Regions from separate parts of the Homo sapiens genome. Here region 2 is linked to region 1. Evidence: fine-mapped expression QTL. A gene starts in region 1. The other region holds a variant in brackets. All regions are shown on one strand. Distances are from middle to middle. Region 1 holds the start of TMEM176A (transmembrane protein 176A). Region 2 overlaps AOC1 (amine oxidase copper containing 1).

The links.
Region 2: its variant is fine-mapped to the expression of TMEM176A in whole blood (TOPMed, PIP 0.95).

Annotation. Positions count from the first base shown.
Region 1 is chr7:150,799,601-150,802,341 of GRCh38, reverse strand. TMEM176A (transmembrane protein 176A) reads right to left here and starts at 1,573. Exons shown (of 7, transcript NM_018487.3): 1 at 1,514-1,573; 2 at 618-806; 3 at 17-127. The coding sequence starts at 791. It overlaps TMEM176B (transmembrane protein 176B), which reads left to right and starts at 1,978. Exons shown (of 7, transcript NM_001101312.2): 1 at 1,978-2,044. RefSeq lists enhancers at 882-1,581, 1,582-2,281, 2,282-2,741.
Region 2 is chr7:150,852,686-150,855,694 of GRCh38, reverse strand. The region is part of intron 1 of AOC1 (amine oxidase copper containing 1); the gene reads right to left. All of the region lies in intron 1 of LOC105375567 (a long non-coding RNA gene), which reads left to right. Among named protein-coding and RNA genes, the nearest start is that of AOC1, 1.7 kb to the right of the region's middle. The variant C/T (reference allele first, on the strand shown) is at 1,325.

The DNA.
Region 1 (2,741 bases):
GTCCTGCTCTACTCACCACAGCCCCTGTCCAGATGGCAGCTCCCGAGGTGACGAGGAGGGTGTAGTCGCGGATGTAGAAAAATCCTCCTAGGACTGCACTCAAGATCCCCAGCACGATCTGCATCACCTGAAAGACAAAGGACCCAAGATCCCGGCTCCTAGGTGGACCTGCCACTGCAGGGATTAACCGCTAAAACCCCAAAAAGAGAGGGAGAGGTAGAGAGAGAGAGAAAGAAAGAAGAGAAGAGAAGAGAAGAGAAGAGAAAAGGAGAAGAAAGAGGAGGAGAAGGAGAAAGAAGAAGAGGCAGGAGGAGGAGAAAAGAGAAGGGAAAGGAAGGAGAGGAGAGCCGGCCCATCCTGAGTTTGGCCCAGAGGAAAGGATGGACTCAGGGCTCCACTGATTGGGACTCTGCATGGTCAGTGGCTCCTCCACACCCCTTCAGCCCAGAGCCTCCCCTCCCCAGGCTCTTACTGAGAAGGCCAGAGAATCACATCGCTAAGTAAGAAGACATAACTGGCTCGGTGTCCTGTTCAGAGGGAGGCTGGCAGAGAGTGCTGCTGCGGCTGGAGGTGGGGAGTTCCTCCCGCCGCCCGACGAGGCAGGCCGTCACACTCACCCACGAGGCCACCAGCAGCCGGCTGCTGCCCCTGGCCTGGGTGGCCCGGGGCCGCAGCGCAGAGCAGCAGGTGAGCAGGAGCTTGGCCAGGGCAGACTCCTGGTGGATGTGCACATCGATGTGGGTGTGCTGTGGGGCCTCCGGGGCCATCTCATCACTGTCGGCTGTTCCCATTGTCAGGGACACAGTCTATGAGGAAGGGAGCACCAGAGAGGAACGGCTGTCAGAAGATTTTCGCAGATTTCATTGGAGTTGGGGAGGTCAGGGGCCAGTGGTGGCTCAAAGTCACCCAATGAATGGCTGTCCTGGTCACAGGGCCGCACCCCTGGCCCCTCACGAGGGGAATGTGTGTAGCAGAGGGGGTGCTGACCATGCTGGAACTGCGGCGACTACAGAGCCTGCGGGAACCTCCCCTTTCGCCCAAGATCTGCTCTGTCCCCCTCATCCTCCTCCCAGGGCCCTGGCGTCTGGGTCAAGCAGCGCCCCACACCTCGACCCCTCACCCCCTCCTCCCGGGCTCTTCCTGCGGCCTCCCCTCCACAGTCCGCAGGCTCTGGGACAGGACCGAGTCCTTGGCTGCCTGTGGAGCTCCTGTGCCAGCAGCTGCGCCCCGGCTGCGCTCCGGATACCCCCATCCCCGCCACCGCCGACCTCCCGCTCCACCGACTGCTGCTCACGCCCGACGGGTTCACGCCGCCCCTGCCCCGTGAAGGACCGCGCTGCGGTGCGGAGGTAGGTCAAAAGCCGGGGCCGCACCTGGCTTCCTCTGCAGTCCCCTTCCTGGAGTGTCATCCCTGGGTGGGGGTCCCTCCTACGCTCCTCCAACTGTGCGGAGGCAGCTCGGGGTGCGTGCGGAAGGAGGCCCGGGGGCCGCCGGGAGTGGGGTGCCGCCTCACCTGCGCTCCTCGGGACCTGCGAGCGGGCGGCGGGAGGGCTGGGGCGCTGGCTGGAGAAGTGGGTTGAGAGTTGGAGGGGGAGGCGGGGAGGGGAGGCGGGGGTGGGGCTGAACTTCAGCCCCTCGGGTTCATGACAGGCTGCAGGGCCTGGGGTCCGTCTGGGGTTCTCCTGCTGCGCGAGGGTCACTGGGCTCTGGGGAGCTGGGAGGGTCCGCGGGCGGACGGCCCTGGGAAAGCCCGTGGGGTCGTTCTCGCCTCCAGCCCCGCCCGGCCAGGGCCGGCGTGCAAGTGTGCGCGAGTGGGAGCGCAGGGGGCGCGCGGGGGCTCGGTCTTCTCCCGCCCGGTCCGCTCCTCCGGGCGGAACCCCCTTTGCCGGGCCCCCGGGCCGCAGCTGGTTTCGGGAAACCGCGCAGCCTGGGCGGGGCCGCAGCCCCCACCCGTGCATCTGCCGTCTCCGCCCTCCCGTCGCTCCCCTGCTCGGGGTCAGCTAGTGTCCGCTCTGCTCGGCCGCGGGCTCCCGGAGGACTGCAGGTGAGGCAGGGCCTCCGCGGCCCGGGAGACCCTCTTGCCGCAGGACCCTCTGTCACGAGGAGTCCCCAGGGCCATGCCCCCACCCCGTCCTGTCCACAGGACGTCTTTCTTCCTCCAACCTGGTTTCCAGGAGGACTCACGTAGGAGGGAGGGACAGCTGGGTGCAGGTGTTTCTCCCCAGAAAAACGGCTGGAGAGCGGGAGGAGAGGCCTGGGGCTGGCGCGTCCCGTCCACCTTCTGCCGCCTGCACGCCTGGACCCTGGCTGGAGCCCTACGGTGGGGTGGCTCCTGGGACGGGGCCAGGGAGCGGCGGGGCTGCCGGACGCTTTCCCCAGCCCCGGGGCACGGGAAGAGCTGGACAGAGGAAAGTGTTCGGGGCAGCCGGGAAGAGCCCACCACCTACCAGGCGTCGGGCGGCCCGCAGGGGAATCTCCGTGGTGCCGGCCTGGTTCAGATCCGACTCTTCAGGCGGGGGCGAGGCAGATCTAGGGGTTGGCGTGGGGCGGGGGAAGCGGTGGTCCTGGGGGCCCGGAGGTAGCTGGAACCCGAGGTGCCCTCAGGGCGAGGCCTGGGCCGTCAAGGGAAGGTCTGGCTGGAATCTGGGGCTGGGCTGGAAGCAGTCTGAAGCTCCTTTGTACGTGTGCGGAATTGTCTAACTCCTGTCCTTTCTAACCCCAAGGAGGCCAGGTGGGTGAAA
Region 2 (3,009 bases), 53 kb before region 1:
AGAGTGATTCAGGTGTGACTAGGCTGCAGACTGATGGCTTTGGGGGTGAGGTAGAGGTGCCCAGTCCTGCCTAGCCTTCTTTGTGCCCCATTCACCTCTCTTGTCCACCCAAGGCTACTAGGAGGGGACCTCAGGGAGGGTTTCATCTTAGGAAGATGCCTTTTCCTTTCTCAGGGAGGGTGGGTCAGGGTCTTCACCTCATAACCCCATTCCCCAAGCAGCTGTAAAATCCTGTGCTTGTAGCTGTGAGCCTCCTGCAGGGCTGGGAGACGTGGTGGCCACAGCTCTGTCTTCCCATGTGCTGTGTGCGGAGTCTCTGGGAGACTGTTACTCTTGCCTGTTGCGCTGTTGCTACAGATGCTGGCTGGAGCTGTCTCCCAGCCTTAGTTTCTCCAGACCCTAACTTGTCCTCCTAGGTGATGTGGGCCTCCCTGGAAGGCTGCCGTCACCGTGAAATTTCCCTACAGAAGCACTGCCTTTGCCACCTTGCACCCCCTTCCTCAAGGCTCTGGGTTGAGCTGGGAGCCCCGCTTCAGGATTCCTCCCTGTCTCAGCTGTGCTTTTCACTTCCTGCAAGCAGTGCCTGAGGCACAGACACTTGATTTATAAGGTGGATGCATGAGTGGGTTGGACTCTGAGAGATCCTTGTTTTCATATTTTCATAGGTAGTTGCCTTTTGCTCCCTAAATCAGAAGCCCTGGGGGTAAACCTGGAGAAAACTCGTTCTCCTGTGCAGACAGACAGGTAGCAGAGAGGGTTAATCCACTCCTGTCTCAGACCTCTGCCTGGCCCAGCCTCTTCCCAGGGGGCCCAGGCTGCCTGCAAGGGAGGCCCCGAGGATTTCACCTGGAAAGTCGGCGGCACAGGGTGTGAGGTGTAACTGAGGTGCAGCAGCTCCACTTTGGGTGTATCGTGGAGTGACCCACTGAGGAAACCTGACCATCATGAGCGCTTTTCATTTCTTGCTTTTGTTTTTGGAAAATGCATTTACACATCACATTTCCGAAGCACAAGCGTTGGGAACACAACCCATGTGTTAACTAGAGGCCCTGTTTTCCCGTGGCTTTTTTCCTCCAGAGAAGCTCAGCTGCACATTGTCCCTTCCCACCCGACTCTGGGCCAGTGTCACATCCTTTGCCACCTTTTGAGGTCAGCTGAAACCCCGCACTGCCGAGGAATGCTGTTTTTGGCCCCAACTAACATACTTCTCCACTAGTCCCCTTAGCACTTTGTATTTAATTTGTACACGATGGGCAGTTCTTGATTCATAGACAAATGAAAGGTGTTGGCTGGGCCTGTTCCATCACCCGAGGGCTCTCTAGCC[C/T]TGGAGGCCACGGTAAAGGCTGATCTGAGATGTCCTTCTCTCCCTTTCCCATGCCCCTCTCCCCGAGGGCTCTCCCCTTGCCCTCGTTTTGCTCCATGGTCATGGCCTCTCATGGGGATGTCCCTCTAGTTGCCTTGTCTTGCCCTCTGGTGCTGGCAGAAGACCCTGGAACCCACATGATCTTGGGCTCTCGGAGGCCCTGCTTACCTGGAGGGAGCAGGTGAGGCAGGGGCTGCAGGCGGAACCCAGAGCCAGCAGGAAGGATATGAGGTGAGTTCTTGTGTTCTCCTATTAAATATTGGCCAGGCCTCTTTTTTTTCTTCTTTAAATAGACTATTTTTTCTTTTTCCTGAGACAGTCTTGCTCTGTAGCCCAGGCTGGAGTGCAGTGATGCGATCTTGGCTCACTGCTACCTCTGCCTCCCAGGTTCAAGCAATTCTCCTGCCTCAGCCTCTGGAATAGTTGGGATTACAGGTGTGCACCACCATGCCCGGCTAATTTTTTGTTTTTAGTAGAGATGGTGTTTCACCGTGTTGGTCAGGCTGGTCTTGAATTCCTGACCTCAAGTGGTCCACCTGCCTCAGCCTCCCAAAGTGCTGGGATTACAGGCATGAGCCACCAGGCCTGGCCCCAAATAGACTTCTTATTAGACTTAAATAAATAAATAAATAAATATATATATATATATATATATATATATATATATATAGTCAGGATCTCACTATGTTGCCCAGGCTGGTCTTGAACTCCTGGGCTCAAGTGATCCTCCTGCGTTGGCCTCCCAAAGTGCTGGGATTATAGTAGACTTTTTTTTTAATAGACTTTTAAAAATAGACTTTAATAGATTTCTTAATAGACTTTATAAAGTCTGTTAAAAGTCTTTAAAAAGTCTATTAAAAGTCTTTTAACAAACTTTATAAAGTCTATTAAAGTCTTTTAAATAGGAGTCTTTTAAAGAGGAATTTTAGGTTCATAGCAAAATTGAGCGAAAGGTACTGAGAGTTTCTGTATACTCACAGCCCCTACACACGCAGCCTCCCCACTATCAATATCCACACCAGAGCCATACATTTGTGGCTGATGAACCTGCACATCACTCTCACCCAGAGCCCACAGTTTACATCAGGACTCACTCTTGCTGCTGCATATTCTATGGGTTGGACAAACGGACAATGACATGGATCCACCATTAGAATATCACACAGAATAGTTCCACCTCCCCCAAAATCTTCTGTGCTCCACCTCTTCCTCCGAAACCCTAGCAATCACTGCTCTTTTTATTGTCTCCATAGTTTTGCCTTTTCCAGAACGTCCTGTATTTGGAATCTTACAGTCTGCAGCCTTTTCAGATTGGCTTCTTTTGCTTGGCAGTGTGCATTTAGGGTACCTCCATGTCCTTTCACGGCTGGGTCTCCTTTTTTACAACCTCTTATACCCACGTTTCTTTTTGCTTTTCCAGGAAGGAGAAAGATGTGGAAGAGACCTTTGCTTTCCCCAGGACAAACCTCTGTCCCCATGTGCAGTGGCAGTGGGGGTGGTGGCTGGTGAGACCTCCAGGCAGGAACAGGAAGCAAGCCCTCTCCCTGCTCACCCTCCTCTCTGAGCTTTCCCCACTCCACCCTGGCCGGCTGTTGCCTGCCACCAAGCACCCGGGCACCTTCTGTGATGTGCTGGGCTCCCGCCCT